4 linked regions of the Homo sapiens genome follow. The protein of the gene in region 1 interacts with the protein of each later gene in a pairwise test. Each region holds a gene or a part of one and is shown on either strand. Other genes may lie near its edges.

Region 1 (8,807 bases):
ACTCAGGCTGGAGTGCAGTGGCGTGATCTCAGCTCACCTCAAACTCCACCTCCCAGCTTCATGCCATTCTCCTGCCTCAGCCTCCCGAGTAGCAGGGACCACAGGCGCCCACCACCACACCTGGCTAATTTTTTGTATTTTTAGTAGAGACGGGGTTTCACCATGTTAGCCAGGATGGTCTCGATCTCCTGACCTCGTGATCCACCCACCTCGGCCTCCCAAAGTGCTGGGATTACAGGCATGAGCCACCGCGCCTGGCCTTTGGACTCTATTTTTATATTTAATATTTGTTTCATGTCTTGGATCATTTCATAGCCCTGAGCCCTTTGCTCAGGATGAAAGGAGACCTGGCCTTGGAGACCCATCTCATCGCTTCTCTGTGCCAACCCCTCCCCTGGCCCCAGGTGAGGGATCCCATCCCATAGATGTCATCCCATAGATGTTAGGGAGCTTCAGGCCAAGGCCAGCTGTGCTGTCCCATGGAGAAGCCAGAGAGACAAAGGACAGCCTCACCAGGTGGAGGAGCCACTTAAAATAGGGCAGCATGAGGGAAGCTCAAGCCAGAATCTTCTGTTTTCCCCTCCAGGCAAGAGAAAGGAGCCCTCCCTGGCCCACCTCCTGCTAGTGGCCCTGTGCTGGACACAGAAGCCCCACTTGGCTCTCTCCTTACCTTGCTCAAGGAGAAGGCCTCTGGGCTATGCTTGTAGAAGGTTTCTTTGAATGACCCCAGCCAGGTCTCAGCAATGCGAACCCTGTTCCTCAGGGTGGCCTCCTGGTCGAGGGGGGAATGGGAATCCTGATTTTGGTAGATGTGTCCTACCCGAGAGCAGGGAAGGATTTCAACAGAGCCACCACAGAGCCAGGCCTGCCACGAAGGGAAAAGATAAACACCTCAGCATTCCACCTTTAAGAACGGCGGGAAATAGGGAGCCCTATCTATGAGGGGCTGGCAAAATGCACAGGAAATCGTGAGCACTCAATGGTGAAGATGATTATGGTCCTCAGGGTGGCGTAGAGTTTCCAGATTTGGAGGTTCTGGGCAGGGGAGTGACAGGGTGGAGAGAATAGAGGTAGTTGTCCCAAAATGGGGACAAGAGGGCCATCCCCAGGCAACTACCTGAATATGCTGCCCTTCAAACACATGCAGGTCCAGCACTTAGAGAGATGTAGCATGTGAATTAGCACCCCTATTCCCCAAAGGACACTTCCTCAGGGAAAAAGATGATCTCAGTGGTCCGGGAATATCTCAAAGCTTGTGAAGTGTGCTACAAAGACACCAGAAGCTGTTTGTGGTAGAGACAGAAGCAAGCTTTCCTGAGACACAGTCTTTACTATTTCAAGAAATTTCCCTCTGCTCTCCCACTCCCAAACGGCTGGAGTTCATTCGGCAGGAAGACTTTCATTCCACATTTGAGGATAAAGGTTAAAGTAGAAGTACTGTCCTAGGATAAGCAGCATATGAATGGAAACACCAAAACTGGAGTTCCCAAATTATGTGCCAAGGTGCCCCAGGGTGCCACAGCAAACTCATAGGGTCTGGGGTTAAATTTTTGAGAGAAACACGGTGACATCTGTTGGACTTCATGCAGAATACAAGCGTCAGGTAATTCACACTTTCAGCATTAGATCTCTGCACTCTTGATGATGAATTTTTTTTGGTGTTGGGTTTTCGGAGGATACTGTGATGAAAAAGCAAGTATCATGCTAGAAAAGCAATGTGGGACAGGAAATGAGGGTGACTCCAAGGTTTGAGAAGTTGTGTGGTGCCCAACAGGTGCTAAGTTTTTATGACAAGTATTACATTGTTTGGACCAAACTACTCAATACACAGAACTTCAGGTATTTGTTTTGGACTATGGGTGCTGTGAAAAAATTACTAAGATGCTAAGAGCGCTGTGAATAGAGAATGTATGAGAGCCTCTGGAATCTCCGCACAGCAGTTAAAATAACTGAGAGTATGCCTATTCCTGGAAGCAGGTTTTGAAGGCACTGAGAGTGAAACCAAGCTACAGCACAGGAGAGATGGGAAACTGTGAGAAATGGGAGGTTTGACACACAACACAGGAATGACTTTATAATTTTCCCACAGCCTCATTCCTTCCCAGTGACATTTCTAATGCCTGCCTCTGAGCTGTGACCATACACACCACTCCAGAGATCCCACCTCTGTCCTCCCTTGGTCCAGGACATACCTTGAAAGACAGTTCGAGGTTTTCACCACCTCGCAGCGACATAAGAGAGTCATACGCTCCAGTGTTTTGGAAGTAATGTCTGTCCATGGCCACCACCTCTCCGGGCACCACAGGGCTCCTGGACACAGAAGACAGGCAGGACACTGCAGTTCAGAACCCAGAGCACAGCAGGCGAGGCTGGGGGCTGGGGCTTCCCAGGTGGGAGCTCCAGTGGCTGAGAGAACAGGCTTTAGGCTCAGGTAAAATGCAATTTTTTAATTGCAAGACTGGAGCAGAGCCACGATGTCAGAAATCCCAGTGTTTGATGGAAAGAGAGCTATTCTTGCCTGGGCCTTCTATACTCTGTCCTCAGATACTGCTCCTAGAGAGGGCCTAGGGACCACACCTGAGACTCCCCTGCCCTCTGGCTTGAGTCCCTCTGGAAAGATGTTTGGGAAGAAGGCCTTGCTTAAAATCAGGTACTCTAAGAGAGGTAGCACCAGGCCTGACACGGCGACATGGTCAGGCTCTTTCCTCCTTTCTTTTTCTCACCCTCTTCTGTTTTCCTAATGACCATCCACCCTCTTCCCAATTCTATGATGAATCCACCAGGGACCCTGGAAGCAGATAAGTCCCCACTGCCCTAGGGGAAAAATACATGATTTATAAACACAAGAAGCTAGAAACCTTTAATAAGGGAATTAAGATCATAATATCCCTCAGAGGGATTTTAAACAGAGAAAGATGTAGTCAGAGGGTTTTTGAAAAAGGGTCCCTTCATCTAGGAGGAACAAATTTGAATGCAGCCAAACTCTGGGAATTTTTCAAAGTGTAAATGACTAAGAGTTCAGATTTTTCTTAATTACCAAAGAAATAGTAATGCATTAACAAAGCTACTGGTCTTTAGGTTATAAAAATTCTACATTATACCAAAATACTAAAAACTGATATTGTAATGATTATTCAGTATAATTTCCAACTCTGCCACTCCCAATTTGTAAGATCTTAGGTGGGCTATGTGTCTTTGAGCTCAGCTTCCTCACCTCTAATTGGGGATAAAATAGTGTTTCATAATTGGGTTTTGCGGGATGACTAAGGTAAGCCATGTAAAATATGTAGCTCTGTGCATGCCACATTTTAAACGCTCACTGGATTTTGATGTTACAAGTTCAGCATTCCTTTTCTGACACCTGTGGGACCAGTGTGCTTTTTAATGCAGAATTTTTTGGACTTTAAAGAGGGACATACATCGTATACCACACATCAGTCCTAGTGGGGTCTGCCCGGCACTCTTTAGTCAAATATACTAATATTTCTTTGATGAAACACACATATTTTCACAGTAAGCAGTAAGTGGGATAAATAAGGCCAATGCAGACACCCCATGTCAGTTCAGGGCAGCTTTTGCTGCCTAATGATTTTGTTTTTGTTTTTTGTTTTTGAGACAGAATCTTGCTCTGTCACCCAGGCTAGAGTGCAGTAGTGTGGTCTCAGCTCATTGCAACCTCTGCCTCCTGGGTTCCAGTGATTCTTGTGCCTCAGCCTCCCAAGTAACTGGGACTACAGGAGTGTGCTACCATGCCCAGCTAATTTTTTTTTGTAATTTTAGTAGAGATGGGGTTTCGCCATGATGGCCAGGTTGGTCTCGAACTCCTGGCCTCGAGTGATCAGCCCGCCTCTGCCTCCCAAAGTGCTAGGATTACAGGCATGAGTCACTGCATCTGGCCTGCTGCCTAATGAATTATTAAACAAATGTTTGGTTTTTAGAGCTTTTTGGATTTTGCAATTGTGAATAATGAACTGTGGCCTTGTATTTAAAATATAGCATAGCAGTGAAGCAGTCGTCTCAAGGGCCTGGCTGTCTGGGTTTAAATTCTGGATTCACCTCTCACTGGCTTTATAGTGTTGGGAAACTTTAAAAATCCTTATGTACCCCAGAAACCATGGGGGCAGACAACCAACCCCACTGTGTCCTTTCAGAATTCATATCCCACAGAATTCATGAGCTTAATAAAATGGCTGTGTTTTACACCAAGTTTGAGGTGATTTGTTATGCATAAGATATCTAGTACTTCTACTTAAATAGAAGAGTCATCCAAAAACCAAACATGTGAGAAGCGACCCATACAATAGGATATATTTGAGACCTATGGTTCTTAGCATTCACCTGGTTGAATTCTTCCTATTTGCTAAGACGAGACCTGAGGAATTCACACTGTACCTGATGAGAGAGCTGGGCCAAGATTCCATCTCAGGTTGCCACACACTGGGGCATTAACTGATGCTATCTGGAAGACCCTGTCGGAACTTTATGAATATGACAATATAATGGTGGTAGCACCTACATCTGGGTGCCTGGCACTCTCTAAGTGCTTTTCACATATTAGTTCATTCAATCTTCACAACAACCCTTATAGGGTAACCCTTATAGGTAAATACTATGATTGCTCTCAATTTACTGAAAAGGAAACTGTGGCATACATTAAGTAATTTACTAGGAAACTGTGGAGGTAGGATTAGACCCCAGGCAGGCAGGCTGCAGAGTCCATCCTGAGGAGGCAATGGCAAAGCAGGTGTGAAATGGGGACTCACCTGATGGGGCTTATGGGGGACTGGAGGGCCTTCCTCACATGCTCTGGCAAAGGTTCCCAGTGGAAATCCAGCTTCCAGTCCAACACCCCACGCTGCAGGTCCTTTGAGGGGTAATACTGGAAAGTCTTCCAGTCAATCACATCTATCACCGGAGATACCACTCGGCTCCTGGAAAGAATTGTGGAATTAAACAAGGGACGTAAAGCATTTACTTGCTGGGGCTGGAAACAGTCTGTACATGGGCTGCCCAGTATGGTGGCTACCAGACACCCGTACCTAAAATGGGTTTATCCAAATCAGGTGTGGAGTAAGTGTAAAATACACCCTGGATTAAGAATACTTAGTATGGAAAAAATGATGCAAAAATCTTAATAATTTTTACATTGATTATATGTTGAAATGGTAATATTTTGGATATATTGGGTTTACTGAACTATATTATTAAAATTAACTTCATCTGTTTATTTTTATTTTGTAATGTGACTATTAGAAGTATTTTAATTACATATGTGGCTTGTGTTATATTTATATTATATAGCACAGTTCTAGAAAATGTTTTTCCATAAGGAATTAGGGTGTATTGCTTTAAAGAGCATGCCAGTACTTTTCTTTCTTCAAAAACCTTTCTTGACAGCACTGAGAGATACAGAGACGGGTCCTAGGCTCAGCTCTGCTACTAATGAACTATGTAATCTTGAGATACCTGTTATACCTCTCTGGGCCTCAGTTTCCTCATTTGTAGAATGGGAGGTTGAACTACTTCCCACAAAGGCCTTTCTCAGCTGCAATGCTCTAGGACTGTGGCTCTTAACTTCTTTTGGGGTGCTTGATCCCTTTGAGATTCAGGGGAAAACTATGGGCCACTCCTGAATGAAATCTTCCATGTCCATATAAAAAATATTGTGCACGATGTCAGAGAGTTTATGGACCCCTGCTCTCAGGTCTAGTTCTTCTTCCTCCTTGTAGTGTAAAACTGGATTGGCTTGAGAAATCAGGATTTCCAAGCCCTAGAAGTAACCCTACTGTCAATGCATGCATATATGAACATCTGGTATCTATAATCAAAGTCCTGACTATTTTGGGTTATTTGCTCATTTCCCGGTAATGGTGGGGAATTTTAGGCCCAATTTTTTTTTTTTTTTTTTTTTTTTTTTTTTTTTTTTTTTTTTACAGCCTGGAGATATGACTGCAGAGTGATGTGAGAAATTGACATGGGTCATATACTTTTTAACTAAGTAGGTAATCACTCAGGTGTCCCAGGAGCTGCTATCCACCTAGCCAATATCTCAATCACATTTTCTCCCCCTGGCCTGTCATGGTAATTATGTCTTCAATCTGTGCCATGGAATGAATCAGGCCTGAACTTCAGGGTGGCTAGAAGATATCACTCTAAGAGAAGTGAGATTCCTGGGAGGGGAGATACTAGCCACATTGTGTTTACACTACCATCAAATTCCATCTCTGTTCCATTGTCTTGGATAGAGCCAGGGTGGCCCCATGATTTCATTATCTGCTTTAATCTATGGCTTTAGGTAACTGACATAAGTGTAAGGAGTTGTGGGGTCTATATTTAGAGCAAGGATCTTAATATGCTTTTCCTGCCTCTTTCACATTGTTTCTGCTGGAAGGCAAAGGGAACATAATCCCTCTGGGTTTCCCCTATTTTGGGGTACCCTGTATTGACCTAAGAAAACTGAGAACCTAGACCAGGGAGGAAATGAGGGCACCCAGAGCCCCTTCCAGAGCCTCCACTTACTGTGTAATGAATCAGGCAGATGGATAAATTTGGCTATTGGCAAAGCATTTTGTGGAATTTTGGAATCAAGAGCCAGGGAACTGTGTGGCTGAATTAGGAAGAAATGCATGAAATTTGTGCCACCTTCAGCAATCATAAGAGGACAAGAAAGGGACTTGTATTCAAGCATTCCTGCAATCAATTCATCCTAGACCTCTATGCTGTGTATTTCTTTCTTTCTTTTTTTTTTTTTTTTTTTTTTTTAGACAGAGTCTCGCTTTGTTATCCAGGCTGGAGGGCAGTGGCGTGATCTCGGTTCACTGCAAGCTCCGCCTCCCAGGTTCACGCCATTCTCCTGCCTCAGCCTCCCAAGTAGCTGGGACTACAGGTGCCCGCCACAACGCCCGGCTAATTTTTGTATTTTTAGTATACACGGGTTTTCACCGTGTTAGCCAGGATGGTCTCGATCTCCTGACCTAGTGATCCCCCAACCTCAGCCTCCCAAAGTGCTGGGGATTACAGGCGTGAACCATCGCGCCCGGCCTTTTTTTTTTTTTAAATGGTCTCACTCTGTCGCCCAGACTGGAGTGCAGTGGCACAATCTGCGCTCACTGCAACCTCCACTTCCCAGGCCCAAGGATTCTTCAGCCTCAGCTCCCCGAGTAGCTGGGACTACAGGCATGAGCCACCATGCCCGGCTAGTGTGGGGGTGTGTGTGCGTGTAGAAATGGGATTTCGCCATGTTGTTGAGGCTAGTCTCGAACTCCTGAGCTCAAAGTGATCTGCCAGCCTTGGCCTCCCAAAGTGCTGAGATTACAGGTATGAGCCACTGCACCCAGCCTGTGCTGTGTACTTCTTAACAAAGGAGTACGTTGCTTTTTATTAGAAAATGAGAATTCTAAAATTCATTATGTTTCTCTTTTTGTTTTGTCTTTCTGGAAGCTCAGAGTCACATGTAAAACTCACTTCTAATAACTGTATTACCCCTGATTCCCAATACCCTCTTTTCCTTTCTGAAATCTTCTTTTTCCTCTATTTTAACTGTATACAAGAGTGATTAATCATGAGCTTCCCTGAGTACATTTTGGATAGAGATAAAGAATAAAATGTCAGTGAATGAAGTGAGGAGTGTTTTCTATTTTGGTCTTTATTCCCATGGACCACAGTGGCTGCCTAGCAGGACTAAATTACTAACTGTAGTCTACTGACTCAAAAACGGTGATTAATTCAAATAAAAAACCCACAGTCTTCTATTTAGCTTTGTGGTTTTGTACCTACCGATGTGTCTGGTGTTCTTGGAATTCACGTCAAGCAAAATAGCGAGCTGACCTCGTTTGACTTGGAAGGAGCTGGAAGTGTCTGCTTACTTCGTCAGTCCCTCACCTGTGAATTGAGTTTTAACCCTCAGGCAGGTACAAGGTTGATCCTATGTTGAGCCTAAGTTCCAGGAGATCAAGTGCTTATGTTTCAAAAGGCAAACAGAAGGAGTCAAGCTGCCAACAAAGACTGGTTCACTGAAATACGTGAGATCAACGAATACATTACTGTCCAGATATTCAAGAGCTAACTGTAGTTTCAAGCTTCCCATAACCTTTTACCACAATAAAGAATAAGCCCTCGTTTATCTCATTCCTTGTTAATTCTCGTGAGCCTGGATGTTCCTCAAGGTCCATGATACACAAGCCATTTTGAAAGTTCATGCGTATTCTTGGTGTTTGTGGAAAGTCTCTTATACTAGAAGCAGAAGGCTCTGAATTCTCCCTTCCCAGTGCTCTTGCTGCTCAGTTGTGACCGCAGGACTGGCATCGGCTTTTCCAGGGGCAGATACGAGGACGTGTCATGCTGAAGGGTATGAAGTACGATGGTTGCTGGAGAGTTTCCTTGGGGCACCTGAGCCAAAGAAGGCTGCTCCCTCTGGGGGGGCAGGAGGCATCCTGACCTCCTGCTGCTCCTTGACGCGCACATGCGCGCGCACACACACACGCACGCACATGCTCGCTCCCCCCCACACTCAGACTCTCACATGCTTACACACACACACTGACTCACATGCACAAGCACAAGGGGTTCTTACACTGCTTTCCATCATTTAACCCTTCAAAGGGCAGAGTGGGAGGTGTTCTTCTCCCTGCCCCACATTGCTTCTCCCCATAGCACCCCTGGCTGATCCTGAAGGACCGGATGTCTCGCAGATAGGGACCAGACCCATTTTCAAGTAAGAGATAACTTGTTCAGCTTCTTGAGATGATATCATCTTTCAGCCCCTTTCAAGACTGTCCCTTTCCCCTTAGAAACCTTCATCCTTCCAG
Region 2 (7,000 bases), about 47 Mb from region 1:
AAGGATCGTCATGATCGCTGCTCCAGCTGAAAGAAGAGACAAAAGGGGAATGTTTCGAATATCATGACCCTTTTTATTCAGGCCACAAGTGACAGGATAGCAGTGGGCATTTGATCTATGGCAACCAATTTGTAGACTGGCTATTGACTTATGATATTGCCTGGGGTTGATAGTTGTGTCCAAACTAAAATAATTTTTTTGTTAGTTGAACCAATCATATTCTTTCTGTTAGGACATTAGATAAGAATAATGACAAGAATAAATGGGAAACAGAAAGGGAACACAGAGAGAGGGCAGGCAGGACAGTGACAAAGACATAATAATAGTGGCACTCTTGCTAAGGCATTCTTGCTGCTCATTGACGTGAACCCAAGATATGAGACCTGAGCCTGTTTCAGTCCTTGAACTTTTATTTCTGTAAAAGTTCTCCACCATTATCATGCAGTGGGTATCCCTATAATAGCCCTGTTTCCTTGACAGCGGTGCCTATGTGACTTACTCTCCTCCATAACCAAGCTAAACAATTGTTTCCAGGGAAAGCTTCACAATTCCACTTCACAATGAAGACCATTAAGGGGAATTTACATCTCATCCAATGTGTTACCAATAATTCATTTACATATTCTTTATTCCCTTTCTTCCCTCCTTCTTCTCTCATTTTCTTAACCAATACTTTCTAAGCACCTACTGCCTGGGTGTTTTGGTGGAGATTGCCGATGTCCCTGATGTTGGCCTTACTGTGTGTTAAGCACTGTGTTAGAAACATAAAATGCGCTGATGAGCAGGACCAACAAGATCCCTGCTCTCACACTGCATTTACTCTGATTGAGTAGCTAGAATGAAAAGTCATTAAAAAGTGTGGTCTGGGAGCCGTCAGAAGGCTGACCTTATCTAGTAAGACCTCCCTAGACAGTGGTATCTACATTGACACTGAAGGGAGAAGAAGAATTCATCAACTAAAAAAAGGTGAGCAAAAGGGAGAGGGAGCATTCTGGGCAGTGGAAGTGGCATGTACAAAAGTTCATGAGAACAGCAAGAAACCGTCACCAGGCCCCTAAAACATCAAGAAATGTGAAACGTGTACAGAGCAAGAAATTGTCTCTTGGTATGAGAGTTAAAAGGGTGAGGATGGACCACATTCCCCTCTCCTAAGGAACATTCCCCAGTAAAGTTTGGATAATTCATTACATTCGACTGGCAGCATCATCCTTTCTTGTAGGCTTCAAAGAGACCAAAGAGACTGGCATGGAAGGCAGAGGGTGATAAGTGGTTGGAAGGACTTAGTTCCTTAGGGAACAGAGATCAAGTTCTTACACTTCACACCTCACCCTGTGCTCTGTCCAGTAACTATATTACGCTGCCCAGAGTCATTTAGGTTGGAAAAAGGTATTTCTTTATCATCACCATCATCATGGTCACAATTATCATTTACTTTAGAAGGATAGTTAACAGTTTGCTAAACACTTTTTCATGCTTGATCTCACTTAAAATTTTCAACACTATAGGCAGGAGATATTGCCCCCAGTTTTCAGGTTAGGAAACTGAGGTCTTTAAAGGAGCCTAAGCTAGTACATTGAACAGGAATAATAACAAATACAACAAAAGTCAAATACATCCCCACAGAAGATGAAGACTCAAAGGAAGACCGTGGTTCTGTGCACATACTCCTTAGAGATTTTCTACTTTTCTTCTACTAGCACATGACTGTTTTTCTTCTGTCCCCATACCTCAGTCAGTGAGAGATGTGGGTCGTCTGCAGAACAAAGAACTAAGGATGGTGTTTCTACTTCAGCATAACTCCAGGGTTTTCCCCAGTTTCTATGGGGGAACACCCAAGGGCCTGGAGCACCTGGGCATTACAATGTGGTTAGTAAGTGCCTGTATCTGACCCTATAAGGACCCTCAGCACATCCTGGAGAATTCAGTTGGGGCCACTGTGTCTCTTTCAAGTGTACGAAATTGTCTATGGATTGTTATTTGAGAAAGACCAGGAAAAGTATCTCTTCACACCTCTACGACAAACCCCTGAAGGCCAAGTGCTTGCAATTCTTCCATTAGACGTTCTCGTTTAGGTTCAATACTGGCCTTGCTGGAATTTTCTTTGAAATGTGAATATTCCAAGGAGCAAGCGCCTGAAGAGTCACTCATACTATGGTAAAAATAGACTTGCCAGTTTGAGGGCCCTCCACAGTGGAATATAGAGATAGAGGGGCTAAAAAGAGGTATGAGCAAGTCTGGATACAAATTTCTACCTCAGAGTTTTGCCAAGACTTTAACTTGCAAAAAGTTATCTGTAATTTCCTAAATTATCCTTTGATGAATTTCTACTTTCTCCCTTTTCATCACCGTCATAACCGCTGGCATCGTTATCATCATCACCTTCATAATCTTTTATTGAGCACTTATCACAGTGTAGGTACTAAGCAAGGTACCTTACTTGGATAAATCATTAAATCATGATAGCATCACTTTGAAGTAGGAACTATTATTAGCCCTATCTTATAGATGAGAAAAATGAAGCCTAGTGAATTTAACTTGCCCAAGGTAACAAAGCTAGTAAAAAATAAAATCTGAATTCAAATCCATAAGAAGCATTCCTGACCCTTTTCTCTTTTTTTCTGTACTTGTGAGGCCAAATACCAGTTGTCTTAATACACTCAGGAAAGCATTAAGTGATGAATCCATCTGGACACTGAGGAGCTGCTTGTTTGTTGTGCACTTATTGATTCATACTCCAATTGCACATGATTGTTGTCACCAATTGAGAGGCTAGAAGGTTGTAATTAAACCCACATTAATATAGCTTTAAATTACATCAAACTGTCAATCGTAGATTGCTGCTCACGATTTAAATAAATTTTCTGTAAGAATTCCCCGTCTTGTTTATACACAGGAAGAAAATGAGTTCTCTGACTTATGCACACTTTTTTTAACAAAAGAGGAAAAGATAAAAAATGAGATTAAATTATTGCCTTTGTAATCGAAGTCTTTTTCTACATATTTAAAATGAAAAGTACTGGTTTTTAATTGGAATCAACTCTACCTTGATTAATTAATAACTAACAGAAAATAGAAGCCAAATATAAAAGACAGTTGATGTCTGTTGAATTCATCTCTAAATACAAATGTTCCTTGGCATTTTCAGAAAAGACCTCAAATATGTAAGTTGATGACTGAGATAAACACTGTAAAATAGGATAACATCTGCTTTTTAAAGCTTCTTTGAGGATCAGGGATAAGATATGGCAAGTGCTTGCCACATTGGAAAAAGCAGGAGTGTAGCATTTAAGAGAATGAAGTTGGGAGTGAGGCTGCTCAAATCTTGGCTTTGGCATTTCCCTCAATTTTGTCCCTGATGAGTTGGTTAACATCTTTGAGCCTCCTGGAGAAACGGGAATGTTAAAGTTACACAGATTCAACACAATGATGTAAGAAAAACACAGTAATATAGTCCCCCATATGATGCCTGCATGACAAAGGTAGCTGTTATTACTTCTCTCATTAGGAGTTTAAAATGATGGCTACTATAAAATTGTATTTATTGTATGTTATGACGACACATTTCACTTTGTTGTTATCAATAGCATAAATTATAAATGTTATTAATATTAAGAAAGCAGTATGATATTTGCTTGAAAAACGTGGCTTAGAATTTAAATTCAGGAATGAAGATTATATAAATGCTAGTGTCTCCATTTAAATCAAGTAGACCTATACCTCACATATCGACATGCTGCATCTTTGGATTCACTGGCCGCCTTGGTTAGGCAGGGAGGTAGGCTGGAAAGGGAAAATGGTGATGTGAAACCCAGGGTTATAGCAGAAGGTATTGCAAAATTAGGGATGAATGTCAAAAATAAGGATTAGAAGAATTAGGCAAATTGAGTCAGCAGTTTATTCCATAGGCACAGAATCTAGGGCTGCAGCATTGTGTTGGAGAACTATGCAAGCCACACAAATATTGTTTTGGAGAGTTTAAGTTCTTTTGATGACCTTAAGTCTGCACCAGTGTAGTTCTGAACAACATGGATGTGTGGAGTCCTCCACTTTTCATTTCACATAAATCTACAGGTACAAATTCAGTGCATTGCATATAGTAAAGAAAGAATTACTAACATCATTTTTTAGAAGAAAAGGGAAAAAAAGAGACCAAAGGTCAACTGGCAAAATACTAAAGTAGCAAAATAAGAATTACCTGTGGGTCGGGCATGGTAGCTCACGCCTGTAATCCCAGCACTTTGGGAGGCCGAGGCCGGCAGATCACGAGGTCAGGAGATCGAGACCATCCTGGCTAACACGGTGAAACCCTGTCTCTACTAAAAATACAAAAAATTAGCCAGGCGTGGTGGCAGGCGCCTGTAGTCCCAGCTACTCGGGAGGCTGAGGCAGGAGAACCCGGAAGGCAGAGCTTGCAGTGAGCTGAGTTGGCGCCATTGCGCTCCAGCCTGGGCAGCCTAGCGAGACTCCGTCTCAAAAAAAAAAAAAAAAAAAAAAAAAGGTAATTATCTGTGGAAGGACTATACCAACTTAGTTTTCCAGAGTAGTCTGAAAATGGGGTAAGTTTAATATGTACATTTTGCCATTTCCAAATGATAGTTTAAGAGATTTGCTGGACCTATTTTATCACTGCCCTCCATCGTGGGTGACAGAGTGAGACTCCGTCTCAAAAAAAAAAAAAAAAAAAGAATTATCTGTGGAAGACAGGACTATGCCAACTTAGTTTTCCAGAGTGGTCTGAAAATAGGGTAAGTTTAATATATACATTTTGCCATTTCCAAATGATGGTTTAAAAGATTTGCTGGACCTATTTTATCATCAGGGAATAAATGTAAAAGACCACCAGAGTCAGTGCTATGTCCCGACTTTTCCGTTTTGACCTAAAAGATAGTGAAAAGTACCCTGACCTCATTTAAGTAGAGATTAAGGATGTGGGAGTTTTGCCTGCAAGTCTTGAAATTGGCTAAAGCTTTCCCCTCAAGGCTGGACTTTTATATGTTATTAAGACTTTAAATCTACTGTATCCGTGAACCCTTCCTAAGGAAAGAACACGTAAATAAAGTGGATTTTTTCCCCAGGCTATAAAATCCAAAAGTAGAAGATGACATTAAAGGTAATACCAGTTCATGTGGGTAATCCATAGAAAATAATGTAAAATATGAGCTATTTTAAAGAATTTCTTGTGTGTGTGCACAACTGTAGACAGGTGATAGGCCCACAACTCTTCCTGCATACCACAGTTTACCATCAACCTCTCCCGTTCTCTACCTACTGCATCTCAAATTACACCCTTCTGAAAAAATCAATTTTAACAGTTCAGTGCTTTATATCTACACTTCCCTCTGTGTTCATACAAATTGCACACACGCACACTCACTCACATACAAAACTATATTTTTTATTTGTGCAAATACAGGACTCTGTATATTATTTTGAAATATGATTCAATAAATTATCTACATGTTTATTCAAAGGATAAATACTGGTTTTTCCATTTAGCAATTTTATCAAATACAAAGAATGAAACTTATGTTTTCTCACTTAACAATTTTATCAAATACAATGATATATTTACCTGCAGGTCAATGCATATTAATTGAATTCATTCTTTTTTTTTTTTTTTTTTCTGAGACAGTGTCTCACTTTGTCGTCCAGGATGAAGTGCAGTGAAGTGACCACAGCTCACTGTAGCCTTGACCTCGTGGGCTCAAGCGATCCTCCCACCTCAGTTTCAGAAGTAGCTGGGGCTATAGGCATGCACCACAATGCCTAATTTTTTAAATTTCTTTTCCTTTTTTACAATCTCACATTATTTTTATTTGATCATAGTACGGACAATAAAAATGTATTCCTATTCTTTTTGATACTAACAGTTTTACTAAATTTGTTTTCAGTTTCTCTCAAATAACACATAGCATATCTTGTTGATATGGAACTTCATATTCATTTAGATCCAGTATGTTCATTAGAATAATATAGCCTTCTGATTTTAAAAGCAACTGATTGCTTATAGAAAAATGATATGCATCGACATTTAGTCAGAAAAAGAAACATGAGAACATGTCTTTTATGTTTGATATCACTTAACTTACAAGATGATGTGAAAATAGTTTGGTTATAATTTTAACAAAACTAAAACTCACTTCAACTAATGAAAAAAATCAAACACTGAAGAATCAAATATCTACTGACTTAGCTGGTATTCCTGTCAAAAGACATGTCTTCTGCTGCACTGAATATTAGAATTAGAAATTCACTATATGTTAAGCCATATTTTAATTAATATGTTCCAGAATTGCACAGCTTCCCTATGTTGGCTAGGCTGGTCTTGAACTCCTGGGCTCAAGCAATCCTCCCATCTCAGCCTCCCAAAGTGCTGAGATTATAGGCATGAGCCACCATCCCTGGCTAATTCATTCTTTTTGATGGCAATATAATATTTCATAACATGATGAATCATACTTTAATTATTTTCTTATAATGGACTTACTAGTTATTTCCAGTTCTTTTCACTACAGATGATGTTGCAATAAATATTCTTGAGAATATTGCTATTATCTGAATGTTTATGCCTCCCCCCAAGTTCACATGTTGAAATATAGTTCCCAAAGTGATGGTCTTAGGGGGTGGGGCCTTTGGGAGGTGATTAGCTCATAAATGTGGAGCCCTTGTGAATGGGATTAGTGTTCTTATAAGGGACAGACGAGATCAGAGTTCTTCCCTTCTGCTATGAGAAGACACAGCAAGAAGGCTCCATCTGTGAACCAGAAAGTAGGCCCTCACTAAACAACGAATCTGATGGCACCTTGATCTTAGACTTTCCAGTATTCAGAACTATGAGAAATAAATTTCTGTTGTGTATAAGCTATCCAGTTTATGGTGTTTTGTTATAGCAACCCCCAAAACTAAGATACATATATCTTTACATGCATGTTTATTTCTACAGCATGGGGAAATTGCAGCTTAAAGACACTGTCAAGTTTAAAGCTGCTCTCCATTGCTT
Region 3 (6,205 bases), on another chromosome or scaffold:
ATTTAAGTTTGCAGCTCCCTCTGTTGAGAAATTTGGGATGAGTTTTCTAGGAGCTGGACCAGCCTGATAATTAAGGAAGACCACCCAGTCATATGTTCAAAGCATTCCTTCCTGCATCCACCAGGGTACCTGAAAAGGTCTCTTCCCACCCCTAGTCCCAACACTCTGCCTCACCAGGTGCCTAGTTAAGGCTTGGACCAGACTTCAACTTCCTCTCCCCTTTTGAATATGTAGTCTTTGTCCATACAACTTCCCATCCCCACCCTTCTCACTAGTCTTGAGTCTGGATTCAATACAGGCTAGACTTGCTTTAAGGTATTCTTTCATAGTGGGGGAAAAGGAGAGGATGCCCAGAGCTATTGGGGAGGCAGCCGGAGTAGGGAACCACAAACCAAAGATCTGTGAGTTATGCTGTCATTGTGTCTAATAAATCCTCCTCCAAAGGGCCCAGCCTGGCCTCGGTAATACAGGTGTTTCTGTTTCTGTCCACTCACCTCTGAGTCAAAGCATTAAATGCAGAGCAATGGCAGAGTAATGTAGCACAACTGCCTCCCTCCCCAGCCCCAGACGAGATGGTGAAAGAGTGGTCACTAGTGAAAGATCCTCAAGAACAAGATACCTTTCACAGGGAACAAAAGAGCATCCTCTTGATGTAGAGATTATAAACCATCACCACCACACCCACTGCCAACCTTGGAGCAGGTGGGCTTCATTTTACTAAGGAACCTGTCTCTCATGCAAACAGGACTGCTGGTGGTGATCTTAATATCTCAGAATCTCAGGCGCACAAAATATTCTTTAGAATATTGCTCAGAAAGTCACTTTCAGGACCAATTCCTTAGCTACGCAGGAAAAACAGCCAGATCAATAGCCTTGTTCTCCACACCCAGCTCTGGGAGACTCACAACCATTTCCAAATAGCATAGCTGTTCTTCAGCAAACAGAAATATGCCACCGCCAAAGACAGTCTACAGATGTCATGTCCAAAGTCAATTTTTAGAACATTTGACCAATGATGGTGTTACTGGAACAAGGATATGGTCATGCAAGGGGTCCACTTCAAAGTAGCACTCACCTGCATGTACAGGTTCTGCTGTGCTTGTTTAAAAGTGTTCCTTTTACTACCAGTTGTCACACATCCCGTAAAACAAAGTTCTGTCAAACTCATGGAACTCTTCATTGAATGGAGACTTAGAAACTGAGGCTCATTTCTCAGCCCTGACGAATGAGCGTTGGAGAATGCTTAATCACTGGGGATCTGTCTAAGTCTCCATAAATCCCCTCTTGATTTTACAGAAGGAGCCATTTCCACATATCCTACCCAGTGATTCTGATGCTTTCTAGCTCTTAGAGTAATGAGTATTTCTTGGGCACCAGGCATGAACCAAGTGTTCTAAAATCTACATGTGACTCAATTCCTATCCCAAGAGTTACCTTTAAAGTTCTGGAAGCACCTGCTGTTCCAGAGGCAGCATGCTAGTAGAGAAAAGGCATGCAAACCTGGATTAAGATTCTGTCTCCACTACTTACTGTGACCTTATAGAAGTCGCCTCTCCCAGCTCCAGTCACCTCATCTATGAAATGGAGATAAAAGTATCAACCTTTGCAAGATGGTTGTGAAAACCATTAGACGCCAAAGAATTAGGAAGAGAGGTGTTTTTGAAATCCAACTATGTGCTGGTCACTGGTTAGGTGCTTTACTAGGAAGATTATATTTTATTTGGATTGCCTGGCCCAGTGTCTGGCATATAGTGTATGGTCAAAGTTATTAGCTTTTTTCCTTCTGAAAAGCAGCTTGACTGGTAAGCCTAGGCCCTCTTCATGCAAAAATGTGATCCATTCTTGCTGACCTTACTTCCTCCTAGTTTGTGATTCCCATGGAGCCATCTAGGGTATTTTTCAAAGGAAACATCCCATAAAAATCAACCATGTCCAGACCTGTGAACTAGCCCTCCTAACCAAACCAGCCTCAAACCTCCAGCGGCCTCCTTGTCATTCTTGCTCACAGCTTTCCTGTCCCCTGTCCCACCTGCCCTCTAAGGGACACCCAGTGAATCATGCCCTTGTATCTCCTAGGGCCCCTTCCATCCCAGATACCACCCACAGCTCCAGGTGGAGAGCAGTGCCCACTATATGCCAACGGTAAGGACTTCCAGCAGGATGGTGGTGTGCCCATGTGGGCCAAAAAGAGCTTCTTAAGGGAAGTAAGAAGGGAGCTCTCCAGAGCCCTGTATCTCAGGAATTGGAGTGATCTGGGGAAGGAAAACAAACAGCTTCTAGAAAGGGCATGAAGAGGGAGTGCTGTGGAGCTGGTGGTGGGAGAAGGGGGTGGGAAGGGAGCCAGGGCTGCAGGAGACGGGGCAGGGAAGGTTTGGACCAAGGGTTGGCAAACTTGTGGCCCATGGGCCAAACCCAGCACACTGCCTGTTTTTGTAGATAAAGTTTTACTGTAACACACACATGCTCATTGGTTTATTTTGTTTGAGAGCTTTCATATTACAGAGTTAACATTTGTGACAGAGATTATACAGCTCACAAAGCCAAAAATATGTACACCTTTTTTACAGAAAAATTTTGTCAACCTCTGGTTTAAACAGTGTCAGGGCTAGGGAAGCTGCAAAAAAAAAATGTTAAGGGGGCCTGACTCCCCTTGCCATGATGGCTATCCCCACATTAGTGACCAACCCTCATTGCCACTTATCACCATAACAGAGCCCCTGATGGGCTTCTCTCCATGTCTTCAGGACACTTATGACATGAGGTGGGAGAGTCAGGAGGATCCTATTTAAGCCTCATTCCTTCTTCCAGTGCATCACCAGAAAGGGAAAGATGAAGGTGTTGTCTACTCTGTGGTGCATAGAACCTCAAAGAGGAGTGAAGGTGAGTGATCTCAGGCCAAACTTGGTACCTTTGCAAACAGAAGTTTTGGACCTACAATGAGAGTATCACTACCACTGTCATTACCACTTTTATCATTACTGTGACCACCATCACTATCACCAAGACCATCATATTTATCTCCATTATTGTCACCACCATCTCCTCCTTCACTACCACCTTCACCTTCACACCATCATCAATGCTACCATGACCACCACCACCTATCTCCTCCACTACCACGCTCACCACAAACACCACTATGACCACTATATTCACCATTCTCAACATCATCTCCTCCACACTGTTACCATGATAAGTGCAGGGAGTTTTTTGCCCTTTCCTGAACAATGTGAAGGACAAAGAAAAGAGAGAAAAAATGATGTAGTCTTCCTTTGCTCCAGAGTCTAAGTCTAAACAGGACAGTCTCCACTATAAGATGGAGTCAAGAAGACCATGGGCTCCAGCCACAGCTATCAGAGTCAGTTGGCAGAGATGGGGGAAAGGCTGGTCCTTTAACAGAGAAATAGGCCATGTGGCATCATGAGAAGAATGTGGGTTTCTGAGTCTCAGAACTGAGTTTGAAACCTGACTCTATGTACTTATTCACTGTTGACTTGGCAAGTCAAGTGTCCTCTCTGGGCCTAATCTGCAAAGGGGAGACAATGCCTGCTTTGCAGGACTACTGTAAGTTGTTAGGAATAGAACCTAGGTTCTAGAAACAAACCTTAAAAATTGTCTACATGTAATAGATGTTCAAAACAGGGAGTTTTGTTGTTGCTGTCGTTTTAATGTCTTATCTGCCCTGCTAATTCAGTTCCTAATCTGCAAAAATGGGTTTGAATTGGCGTAGGGTTTCTGCTCCTTCCCATAAATGGCAGTAGGGGAAATGAACAGTCAAGGAGTCTCTTAATTGAAGGGCAGTTCCCCCAGGACCTGAGGTCACACAGCTGGTGTGTAGTCCAGCTGGAACTAGAACCCAGGTCTCCCAATTCCAGGTTGAGGAGGAGTGAAAGGAATCTCCCCTGGCTGGCTTCCCTGGCTTTCTAGAGGAAGATAGCCAGCCAGGAGGGGTGGGAAGGAGATGTACTTGCTGTGGAGCACAGAGACCTGACCTGAGCTCATTCTTTCCCCACAGCCAGGTCTGCTGAGTTCACCGTGGGGAGAAAGGTGAGCTGGGATCCCTGCTCCTTTCTCACCCTCTCTCTTACATTTGCTTCCTCATCCTGAGCCAACTCTTCCACAGGACAGTTCTATCATCTGTGCGGAGGTGAGATGCCTGCAGCCCAGTGAGGTTTCATCCACGGAGGTGAATATGAGAAGCAGGACTCTCCAAGAACCCCTTAGCGACTGTGAGGAGGTTCTCTGCTAGTGATGGTGTTCTCCTATCAACACACGCCCACCCCCAGTCTCCAGTGCTCCTCAGGAAGACAGTGGGGTCCTCAACTCTTTCTGTGGGTCCTTCAGTTCCCAAGCCCAGCATCACAGAGCCCCCTGAGCCCTTGTCCTGGTCAGGAGCACCTGAACCCTGGGTTCTTTTCTTAGCAGAAGACCAACCAATGGAATGGGAAGGGAGATGCTCCCACCAACACACACACTTAGGTTCAATCAGTGACACTGGACACATAAGCCACAGATGTCTTCTTTCCATACAAGCATGTTAGTTCGCCCCAATATACATATATATATGAAATAGTCATGTGCCGCATAACAACATTTCAGTCAGTGATAGACTGCATACACAACAGTGGTCCCATAAGACTGTAATGGAGTTTAAAAATTCCTACTGCCTAGTGATATCATAGTTGCCTTAACATCATAACACAACACATTTCTCACGCGTTTGTGGTGATGCTGGTACAAACAAGCTACAGCGCCGCTAGTCATATACAAATATAGCACATACAATTATGTACAGTACACTATACTTGATAATGATAATAAACAACTATGTTACTGGTTTATGTATTTACTATAACTTTTTCTTTTTGAGACGGAGTTTTGCTCTGTCGCCCAGTCTGGAGTGCAATGGCACAATCTCGGCTCACTGTAACCTCTGCCTCCCGAGTTCAAGCGATTCTCTTGCTTCAGTGTCCTGAGTAGCTGGGACTACAGGCATGCACCACCACGCCCGGCTAATTTTTGTATTTGTTAGTAGAGATGGGGTTTCACCATGTTGGCCAGACTGGTCTCGAACTCCTGACCTCAAGTGATCCACCCGCCTCGGTCTCCCAAAGTGCTGGGATTACAGGTGTGAGCCACCGCACCCAGCCCTGTATTTACTGTAACTTTTTATTGTTATTTTGGAATATATTCCTTCTACTTATTTTTTTTAAGTTAACTATAAAACAGCCTCAAGCAGGTCCTTCAGGAAGTATCCAGAAGGAGCCCTTGTTATGATAGGAGATGACAGCTCCATGTGTGTTATTGCCTCTGAAGACTTTCCAGCGGGACAAGATGAGGTGGTGGAAGACAGTGATATTGATGATCCTGACCCTGTGTAGACCTAGGCTAATGTGTGTGTTTATTTATGTCTTAGTTTTTAACAAAAAAGTTTAAAAAGTAAAAAAAAAATAATAATTTTAAAAATAGAAAAAAGCTTATATAAAAATATTTTGTATAGTTATACAATGTGTTTGTTTCAAGCTAAGGTTTATTACAGAAGTCAAAAAGTTTTAAAAACCTAAAAAGTTTATAAAGTAAAAATGTTACACTGAGCTAAGTTTCATTTATCACTGAAGAATTTTTTTTTTTTTTTTTTTTTTTTTGAGACAGAGTCTCACTCTGTCATCCAGGCTGGAGTGCAATGGTACAATCTCAGGTCACTGCAATCTTTGCCTCCTGGGTTCAAGCGATTCTCCTGCCTCAGCCTCCCGAGTAGCTGGGATTACAGGCATGCACCACCACACCTGACTAATTTTTGTATATTTAGTAGAGATGGGGTTTCGCCATGTTGGCCAGGCTGGTCTCGAACCCCAGACCTCAACTGATCCGCCCTCCTCAGCCTCCCAAAAGTACTAGGATTACAGCCATGAGCCACTGTGCCTGACCTGAAGAAAATACTTTCATGAATTTAGTGTAGTCTAAGCAGTGTTGATAAAGCCTGCAGTAGTGTACAATAATGTCCTAGGCCTTCACATTCACTCACCACTCACTCACTGACTCACCCAGAGCAACCCCAGCCCTGCAAGCTCCATTCATAGTAAATGTCCTATACAGGTATATTTTTTTCATCTTTATATTGTTTTTTACTGCATTTTACCTTTTCTGCGTTTAGATATGTTAACTACAAAAATACCATTGTGTCATAGCTGCCTACTATATTAAG
Region 4 (9,203 bases), on another chromosome or scaffold:
GTCCCAGCCCTGTGAGATAATTTCTAGACAGGAGATTGGCAATAAATACATATATAATACAAGGTCAGGTGGAGATAAAGATTATGAAGAAAAGTAAAGCAGAGAAAAGAGAGTGTGGAGAGGAGAAGGCCTGATCTTTTAGATAGAGGGACCACAGCAGGTGGCATTTGAGCAGAGATGTGAATGGAGTAAGAAAGTGAGCCCTGTAGGACTATGTGGAGTTTTGGAAAACGAATGAATGAGCTCTGGTGTCTTTTTTCCCTCAGTACTCTCTGTACACAATGATGACTATATGTCTTATGTTTCCCAGAAAATCCCGATTTTATAAATTTTATTTTTCTAAAATGATCCTTTGAAGTTATAACAAAATGTGACTTAATATGTATACTCTTGAAAGATTTTCCCCGATAAATATAAATTCATACATCAGAAAAAACATCCTTTGTCATCTTTCTCAATTTGAGTTCCCTAAAATAAGTGTTCAAAGAGTCATGTGTTTGATCTTTAACTTAGGCTCCTTTCCTCCAGCTCTTAGCAATACTGTGGGGTAAGAGGATTGGGGTCAAGTGAGAATAGACAGATATTTCAACTAGTCAAAAGAAAAATCTACAAATTAGTTGAATTTCTCAAGTTTAGATAGATTCAATGCCAATTAAGAAGAGGGCCTTAGGGGAGTGAAACATTGTCTTGGAGAAATTTCTATGGCATATACCTTGGCAACAGCTCCATGGAAACAGACTGAAGTCTATCTAATAAAGTCTAAAGAAAAAGCCCATATTTTCTCATGTTAACTCTTTGAACTCAAGGTCACTTCTAAGCAGATAATATGCAAGTCTGTTTTTTAACAGTAACCCAGTTGGCAGCTTAGGGAGCTTATCCATCATCAGACCTCGCCTGTGAAGGACTCCACCATTCATGAAGTAGATTGATATAGCAGATTTATACAGCCATAAAATTATGAGTAATATCAAGAGACTGACCTTGGTTATGTCGAGATGAAACATACAAATCACATATGGCAATGCATGAGAAATCTCATGCCAGCCCCCAGTCTGATTACACCCACCCATATCGCCAATTCACAGTTTCACACAGGCTGAAATGAAGAACAAGATGAGTTGTAAAAGCATGAAACACCTTTTTAATACAAATCCTGCAACTACAGTAAGCCACAGTTTTGAATTTGCAGTCGTTATTACTGCCCGAGCTCTCTATGGCTCCCAGTCAAATAACTGTGATTTCTTAGGGACATTACCTCCGAACATAAATTCACTCAGCAAACATTTACTAAGTGCCTGTTGGGCACTAGGTATACCAGAGAAATAAGAAAAAAATGAAGATATCTCTTTCTGTCTTTAAGGAGAGCCTCAAAGAGAAGATTTTTGTAAATGGAAAATTACAGAACTGTGAACAGGAGCCATGGGAGCACAAAGGAAGGAGGAGTCAACTGCAGGCTGTGGAGTTGATGAAAGCAACACACTGAAAGTGATATTGGAGTTATGTTGACATTTCCTGGAGTAATGACCCACAACCCTGCAGTATCTCTTCCCCGTGTTTCCCCATCTATTACTGGTATATAGCTCCCACTCAGGGCTAGCACTAGGCATAAATATCAAGTAGACTGAGTCTTCTTTCATAATCTCATATCCTTTTCCAGCCAATATCCCTCAAAGCCCAGGAATGTTCAGTTAGGGTCCTAGCAGGAAACAGCCTTCAAGCCAGATGGGTCATGTGAGGAGACCTTAATGAAGGGACTCCTTGCAGAGATATGGTCAAGGTTAACGGAACAAACAAGGATGATGGGCATCTGCAGGCTAACAACTATGGGAAGCCATTATCACCCCTAGGGCTTAAGAGATAAGAATAGCAAATACCGTTACTGAAGCCCAATGGGAGCTAGAACCATGAAGAAGGGGTTATTCAGGGAAGACAGCATTACAGAAGAACATAGCTACTGCCAAAGACATCACAGAAAGTGGGGAAGGAGCAAGAAAGATGTATCCCAGCCTCTCTTTCCTCCCTGCTCTCTGACATCTCTCCTTTCAGTGTCTCCCATTGTATGAACCCAAGCAGAAATCAGCTTGCAAGAGAGTCTAGGTGATGCAGTCTAGCAGTCAGCCTCAAGGACACAGAACAGAACAGAGAAGGATGCACTCTAAGGAGTCAGAAGGAGAACAGCCAGCACCAAGTGACCTTCCCTTGCCTTTATAACTTACTTGTTTTATTTCCTGTCCCCCCAATTATCAAAGTGACAAGTCTTCACACCCAAAGGAGCAATGACATTGTGGAACAGCCCTGGACCGAGGGCCAGAAGATCTGCAGTCTCCTTCAGGTTGCTCCTTATGTGAGCGTGGTCACTCTCTAGGCCTAGAGAAAAATCTAGGCCTCATCTTTAAATGGGGATATTTTCTTCACCTACTACAAATAGTCAGTGAGATTGTCATAGGAGATAATATGTTTAAGGAATATTATTCCATATTATTGGAGAGTTCTTTGAGAATCACATGCAGGTAATATATAAGCTTTATTATTTCCAAAAATATCACCCTTTGCCTCTCTCCTCCTTTCCTCTTTCATCTTCTGCCTCTTACCCTCACCCCCAATCTTTCCCATAAATGATGACACTTTCTGGATTAAATTTTCATGGAAGCAGAGACTATGTTTGTCTTGTTCGCTGCCATATCCCCCAAAGTGCCTGGCACATAGTAGGCCATCAATCAATATTTGAACAATTAATATATGGATTTTTTTTTTTTGAGATGGAGTCTCACTCTGTCACCCAGGCTAGAGTGCAGTGGCATGATCTCGGCTCACTGCAACCTCCGCCTCCTGGGTTCAAGTGATTCTCCTGCCTCAGTCTCCCGAGTAGCTGGGATCACAGGTGCGCACTGTGCACAGCTAATTTTTTGTATTTTTAGTAGAGATGGGTGTGCCGAGCTAATTTTTTGTATTTTTAGTGAGATGGGGTTTCACTATGATGGCCAAGCTGGTTTCAAACTCCTGACCTCAAGCGATCCGTCTGCCTCGGCCTCTCAACGTGCTAGGATTACAGGTGTGAGCCACCACTCCCAGCCATATGATTTAAAATTTTTTTATTTGTATAAATTTATGATGTACACATGCAATTTTGTTATAGCATAGATTGTGTAGTGGTCAAGTTGGGGCTTTAAGGTATCCATCACCCAAGTAACACACATTGTACCCATTAAGTAATTTCTAATCATCCACCCCCCTCGCCCTTCCAAATCTCCATGGTCAGTCATTCCACTCTCTATGTGCATGGGTGATTTGAAAGAACTCCTTCCTCTCATGTTCATCAGTCACACCTATGGTGGTGGCCAAGTCTAAGTTCTGGACACTGCCCACCAGTACCAGTCCTCAGCCCAGGGAGCAAGTGATTAGGGCAGAGAAGCCTGGTGGTTCTAGCCCATGGGCCCTTTCCCCTATTTGAGGCAACAGAAGGCATTTGCTTCCCCAGTGACTTGAGCTCCCCGAATAATGAAAAACTCTCCCTTCTACTTGATTAATACTTCTCACAGTCAGTAAACAAACCCAGAGCCATGGTTTTATCTTTCTTGGATCTTTTATTACAGGTAGGGCTTGTGTTGAGGAAAAACATAAATAAACCTGAACAATGGATCTACTCCACTGTTAATGCCCCTGAAACTCTGACTACATCCTCATGAGACTCTGGAAGTTAGAAAAGAGGAGAAACAAAAGTAAAAGAAAAAATATGAGCAGAAAAGAAAGGAGGCCATGCTCAGAGGGAAAGTGAGGAAGTTCCAGAGTCTTTCTAGAACGGCTCCCCCTCCCTCAGAAGGTGGTGACATCAAAATCCTACAAATATGAACTGGGAAACTGTTCAGGCAATCCATTGCTCCTGGAGTCTGAGTGTAATACATACACGTTTCTGCCCCTGGCTTCTATATTTTTCACCACAAGTTTTAGGAAGAAAAGCTGTGCCTTCTAGGCTGCCTCGACTTTGGAGTTAGGAGAGAAGAGGACGTGGGATACTCACGGGAATCGCTGTGCTTCACCATTAACACAATGATGAGAGGTAACAGGAACGCCATCAGTTCCCCCATAGTCCTTCTCTTTCCGGGTTCTTTTAACCAAAAACTGACAGGTCCCTTCTGAGAACCTCTTGGTGACACACAAGGCCTTCTCCCAATAAGAACAGGGGAAGATATGCAGTGTCATCAGTTGCTAGGTTAAAAAAAAAAGATAAAATGAAAGCATGAACACCTTCTTCGGTAACTTTTAAGTCTTTGCTGGTTTCAGACACTGCTTGCTCCTTTTGGTGTATCTATCTTCACCCTATTCCCAATTTTTAAATATTTATGGAGCATAGTCATGTTCAAAGCACAGAGAAACAAAGATTAATCATATCTGGTCAATCAGGGAGCTCAAGCTGCTGCCTCTGCTTCCCTGGAGCTTAGAATTTTGCTTAAGGGTCAGTAAGAAAGAGTCACAGTTCCCACGGCTTGGAACTCCCTGCTCTGGCTCCCTATGATGCTGAAGTCTCTGTCTGAGATAGCAGGTGTCACTTAGATTGTCCCGTAATCTTCAACTTAGGTCTGTCCTCCCTGCTACTCTAGCACCCAGCACAATAAGCTCAAAACACTTACTGAATAAAAGAAGGCAAGAGAAAGGCCTACAGAAGATTCTGAGGGGCAGCCACTCAGCTTGCTCAATCAGCAATCCCCAAGATCAAGCTGTGGCTACACTGTCATAAGGAGCACATGACAAGCTGGAAAACAGCAGCTTAAGCTTGTCCAGGGAGCTAGGGAACAGGCCCAGACAGGAAAGAGGAAGTAGACATGAAGGGGAGAGGTGAATGGAGGCATGGCCATGAGGCAGGCAGGCTTGAGCTGGGTTCAGGGACCTGGGTTTGCCTCCCCACTATTTGACCATGGGCAGAATCCCAAATTGCACCAAGGCCTGATTTCTTCAACTTTAAAAGCAAATCCTGTCATATATTTCACAGAGTTGTTGAAGGATCAGAAGTTCTGTTTATGATGCATTTAGTAGGTAGTAGAACCTTATGTACCGGTTGTATGGTAGGTTGAGAATTGTCGCCCCAAAGATGTCCACAACCTAATTGCCAGAACCTGTGGATATATTACCTTAAATGGCAAAAACAAAATAAAACAAAACAAAACCCTTGGCAGATATGATTAAATTAAGGATCTTGAGACAGAGAGCTATCCTGGATTATCTGGTGGACCCAGTGTAATCAGAGGGGCCTTATTAGAGGGAGGCAAAAGGGTCAGAGTCAAGGAGATGTGACAATGGAAGCAAAGGTCAGAGTGATGATGCCATTGCTGAAAGAAGGACATGAGCCAAGGAACGCAGATGGCCTCTAGAACTAGAAAAGAGAAGGAACAGATTCTCCTTAGAGCCTCCAGAAGGAACACAACACTTTGATTTCAGCTGATAGGACACATTTTTGGACTTCTGTCCTCCAGAACTTTGAAAGAATAAATTTGCATTGTTCGAGGCCACTAAGTTGGTGGTAATTTGTTATAGCAGCAACAGGAAACTAATAGGTCTACCTTTACCCAGAATAAAATAAGAAGCCAAATAATGAAATTAACATTTGGCAATCTCTCAGCGGCCCCTGGCACCTTCTCTTCTCAGATCTTTGTATTTCTCTCTTCCTTTCCTTTCTGTTTCTTTACATTGTTTTTCCTTTTGTTACTCATTTAACAAATACAGTCACCTGGATTTCTCTTTTGGAAAACTCCCCCAATATTCCCAAATGTCTCTCAGCACTGGAATTCCATGGCCATGTATTTTTTCCTTTGAATTTTTGTTAATATCTTGTTCCAAAATGCATTCCATACCATAACCTGCTGTACTGACATTAAAAAGTAGGTATGAGGCCGGGCGCGGTGGCTCACGCCTGTAATCCCAGCACTTTGGGAGGCCGAGGCGGGCAGATCACGAGGTCAGGAGATCGAGACCATCCTGGAACATGGTGAAACCCTGTCTCTACTAAAAATACAAAAAATTAGCCAGGCGTGGTGGTGAGTGCCTGTAGTCCCAGCTACTCGGGAGGCTGAGGCAGGAGAATGGTGTGAACCCAGGAGGTAGAGGTTGCAGTGAGCTGAGATTGTGCCACTGCACTCCAGCCTGGGTGACAGAGCAAGGCTCCATCTCAAAAAAAAAAAAAAATGTAGGTATGTCAACGATGTCTTTCTTTTTTTTGAGACAGAGTCTCACTCTGTCGCCTAGGCTGAAGTGCAGTGGTGCCATCTCGGCTCACTGCAACCTCCGCCTCCCAGGTTCAAGCAATTCTCCTGACTCAGCCTCCTGAGTAGCTGGGATTACACACCCAGCTAATTTTTGTCTTTTTAGTAGAGATGGGGTTTTCCCATGTTGGCCAGGCTGGTCTTGAACTCCTGACCTCAGGATCCACCCACCTTGGCCTCCCAAAGTGCTGGGATTACAGGCGTGAGCCACCACACCTGACCGATGTCTTTCATTTTTTAAGTCATTGTATTCTAATTGCAAATTAGTAAATTTAATCCAGAGTACAGGGCAAATACATATAAAAAACCCAGAGAGTGATAAGATAAAAATCACCCATCAGAAAAAATTGCTGTTGGCCGGGCATGGTGGCTCACACCTGTAATCCCAACTTTGGGAGGCTGACGTGGGCAAATTGCTTGAGCCCAGGAGTTCAAGACCAGCCTGGGCAACATGGTGAAACCCCTATCTGTACTAAAAATACAAAAAATTAGCCAGGTGTGGTGCATGCGCCTGTAGTCTCAGCTACTTAGGTGGCTGAGGTGGGAGGATTGCTTGAGCCAGGGAGGTCAAGGCTGCAGTGAGCTGAGACGCCACTGTACTACAACCATGGCAACAGAAAGAAAGAAGGGAAGGAAGGAAGGAAGGAGAGAGAGAAGGAGGGAGGAAGAAAGGAAAAAATTTGCTGTTAACATATTTTAGTGTATTTCTTTTCAGTGGTTTTGCTGACTACATATGTCTGCATATAAGCATACCTTTATTTGTTCATTTTACCAAAAAAGGGTTTTACGTCCTAATAGTATTTTGTAAATTCTTTTCAAATTTATATTTTCCAATATTAATATGCAGTTTTTAATAGCATAGCTTTAATAGTCCTTAAAATTTTTAATAGATTCAATTATGCCAAGATCTTCAAGGACAGGTAAGACTGCCCCACTAAGCTGGGAGGCACTGAGGTAGGGAGAATCCCTCGCATTCTCTTTGTGGAAAAACAAGCCTCACCTCTGAGCAATAGTCTAAACTTAAATCTCAGGCCGCACTTTTCAGAGTGGGTTGTGCTTATCCTGTTCATTATAAATCCCTTTATGTGTTTGGCTTTTTAATACCTGATTTATTATATGTATTTTAAGGCCCCTCTGAGGAATCTGACTCATTTGCAGTTAGTGCAATTCATCCTTAAAAACCAAATGATGAATTATCAAGTTAGCAAAAGGGTCTTGTTTGTTAAATAATGTTGTTTTCAACATAATATATTTTATTATATTTAATCAGTAGTTTCCCCTTGGCTATTTCTTTTTTAATTCAGTAGAAGTGTGTGTGTGTGTGTGTGTGTGTGTGTGTGTGTCTGTGTCTGTGTCTGTGTCGAGTTTGATTTGAGCCCTTTTCTGTGGGTAGGTAAAATCCATTTGCCAATTTTTGGCCAAGGCTAGTCCTTGTACAAATGGGAGTAGAATACTGTAGCAAAGAACATGGGTTCAGGAGTCAAACTTATTTTCAAATGAGGCTCTGACATTTCCTACCTATGTGACCTTTGACCAAATTATTAACTTCTCTAAGTCTGGGATTTCTCATAGAAAATGGAGGTAATAACCAATTCTGCCTTACAGGATTATTGTGAGGATTCAATGAAATCAGCAGTGGTGGAACCAAGAAGTGACTTGTCACTTGTTGGGGCATTAGAGTACTTTTACTACACACGCATAATGGCCATCAGCTGTCTTAAGTAATCCCAAATAAACCTATAATTTAAGAAAAGAGGCCAGGCGCAGTGGCTCACGCCTGTAATCCCAGCACTTTGGGAGGCCAAGGTGGGCAGATCATGAGGTCAGGAGATCGAGACCAGCCTGGATAACATGGTGAAACCCCGTCTCTACTAAAAATACAAAAAATTAGCCGGGCGTGGTGGTGGTCGCCTGTAGTCCCAGCTACTCGGGAGGCTGAGGCAGGAGAATGGTGTGAACCTGGGAGGCAGAGCTTGCAGTGAGCAGAGATCGCACCACTGCACTCTAGCATGGGCGACAGAGTGAGACTCCATCTCAAAAAAAAAAAAAGAAAAGACAGGGGTCTCCCATGCCACATCAAGTCCCCTAGCCCTGCTGTCCAACCAAATTACATTCTAAAACCTGCCCCATATGGGGATTCTGGAGCTTCTGAAGATAATGCATGTGTGTCACTGTATTTGTTTTCACACTGCTGACAAATACATACCCAAGACTGGGCAATTTACAAAAGAAAGAGGTTTATTGGACTTACAGTTCCACATAGCTGGGGAGGCCTCACAATCATGGCTGAAGGCAAGGAAGAGTAAGCCACATCTTATGTGGATGGCAGCAGGCAGACAGGAGCTTGTGTAGGGAAACTCCACCTTATAATACTGCCAGATTTCATGAGACTTATTCGCTATCATGAGAACAGCACGGGAAAGACCTACCTCCATTATTCAATTACCTCCCACCAGGTCCCTCCCACCACAACACATGAGAATTCAAGATGAGATTTGGTTGGGTACACAGCCCAACCACATCGGTCACTTAGCACAATGCCTGGTACATAGTATGTAAATATTAGCAATCACTAGTACTATTATTGCAATGAGCCAGTTTACCAACACAGATTGATTTTTCTTTCCTTATACACAGTCACATTCATAAAGGATGGTAAAGAACATACCTCCCCTTCCTATAGTGGTTCAAATCCACCGTCTTGTCAAGAAATTCACTGAATTCCAATAACGTATTTCAGCTTTTTAGTACTCACCAATTTCCATTCATTCAGACCCTCCTAACTTGCCTTATTCTAAACAGGATTTAAAACTGTTATTTATTTATTTATTTATTTATTTTTTTGAGACAGGGTCTCACTGTCGCCTAGGCTGGAGTGCAGTGGCGTGAATATGGCTCACTACAACTTCTGCCTCCTGGCTCAAGTGATCCTCCCACCTCACCCTCACG

The links.
Region 2: the proteins of GALNT15 (region 1) and SYNPR interact in binary tests that used the Homo sapiens proteins (3 or more experiments, as listed by UniProt).
Region 3: the proteins of GALNT15 (region 1) and FCRL6 interact in binary tests that used the Homo sapiens proteins (3 or more experiments, as listed by UniProt).
Region 4: the proteins of GALNT15 (region 1) and MR1 interact in binary tests that used the Homo sapiens proteins (3 or more experiments, as listed by UniProt).

What each region holds. Positions count from the first base shown.
Region 1 is NC_000003.12:16,204,627-16,213,433, reverse strand, and holds part of GALNT15 (polypeptide N-acetylgalactosaminyltransferase 15), read right to left. Parts: intron 4,932-8,807; coding exon 4,764-4,931; intron 2,311-4,763; coding exon 2,193-2,310; intron 866-2,192; coding exon 671-865; intron 1-670. UniProt on the Homo sapiens protein: Catalyzes the initial reaction in O-linked oligosaccharide biosynthesis, the transfer of an N-acetyl-D-galactosamine residue to a serine or threonine residue on the protein receptor.
Region 2 is NC_000003.12:63,281,308-63,288,307, reverse strand, and holds part of SYNPR (synaptoporin), read right to left. Parts: intron 1-7,000. UniProt on the Homo sapiens protein: Intrinsic membrane protein of small synaptic vesicles. Probable vesicular channel protein.
Region 3 is NC_000001.11:159,811,413-159,817,617, forward strand, and holds the end of FCRL6 (Fc receptor-like protein 6 isoform 1 precursor), read left to right. Parts: intron 1-2,076; coding exon 2,077-2,142; intron 2,143-2,808; coding exon 2,809-2,880; intron 2,881-4,015; coding exon 4,016-4,047; intron 4,048-4,123; coding exon 4,124-4,249; 3' UTR 4,250-4,845; downstream 4,846-6,205. UniProt on the Homo sapiens protein: Acts as a MHC class II receptor. When stimulated on its own, does not play a role in cytokine production or the release of cytotoxic granules by NK cells and cytotoxic CD8(+) T cells. Does not act as an Fc receptor.
Region 4 is NC_000001.11:181,028,890-181,038,092, reverse strand, and holds the start of MR1 (major histocompatibility complex class I-related protein 1 isoform 1 precursor), read right to left. Parts: upstream 4,111-9,203; 5' UTR 4,086-4,110; coding exon 4,019-4,085; intron 1,097-4,018; exon of another isoform or gene 981-1,096; intron 1-980. UniProt on the Homo sapiens protein: Antigen-presenting molecule specialized in displaying microbial pyrimidine-based metabolites to alpha-beta T cell receptors (TCR) on innate-type mucosal-associated invariant T (MAIT) cells.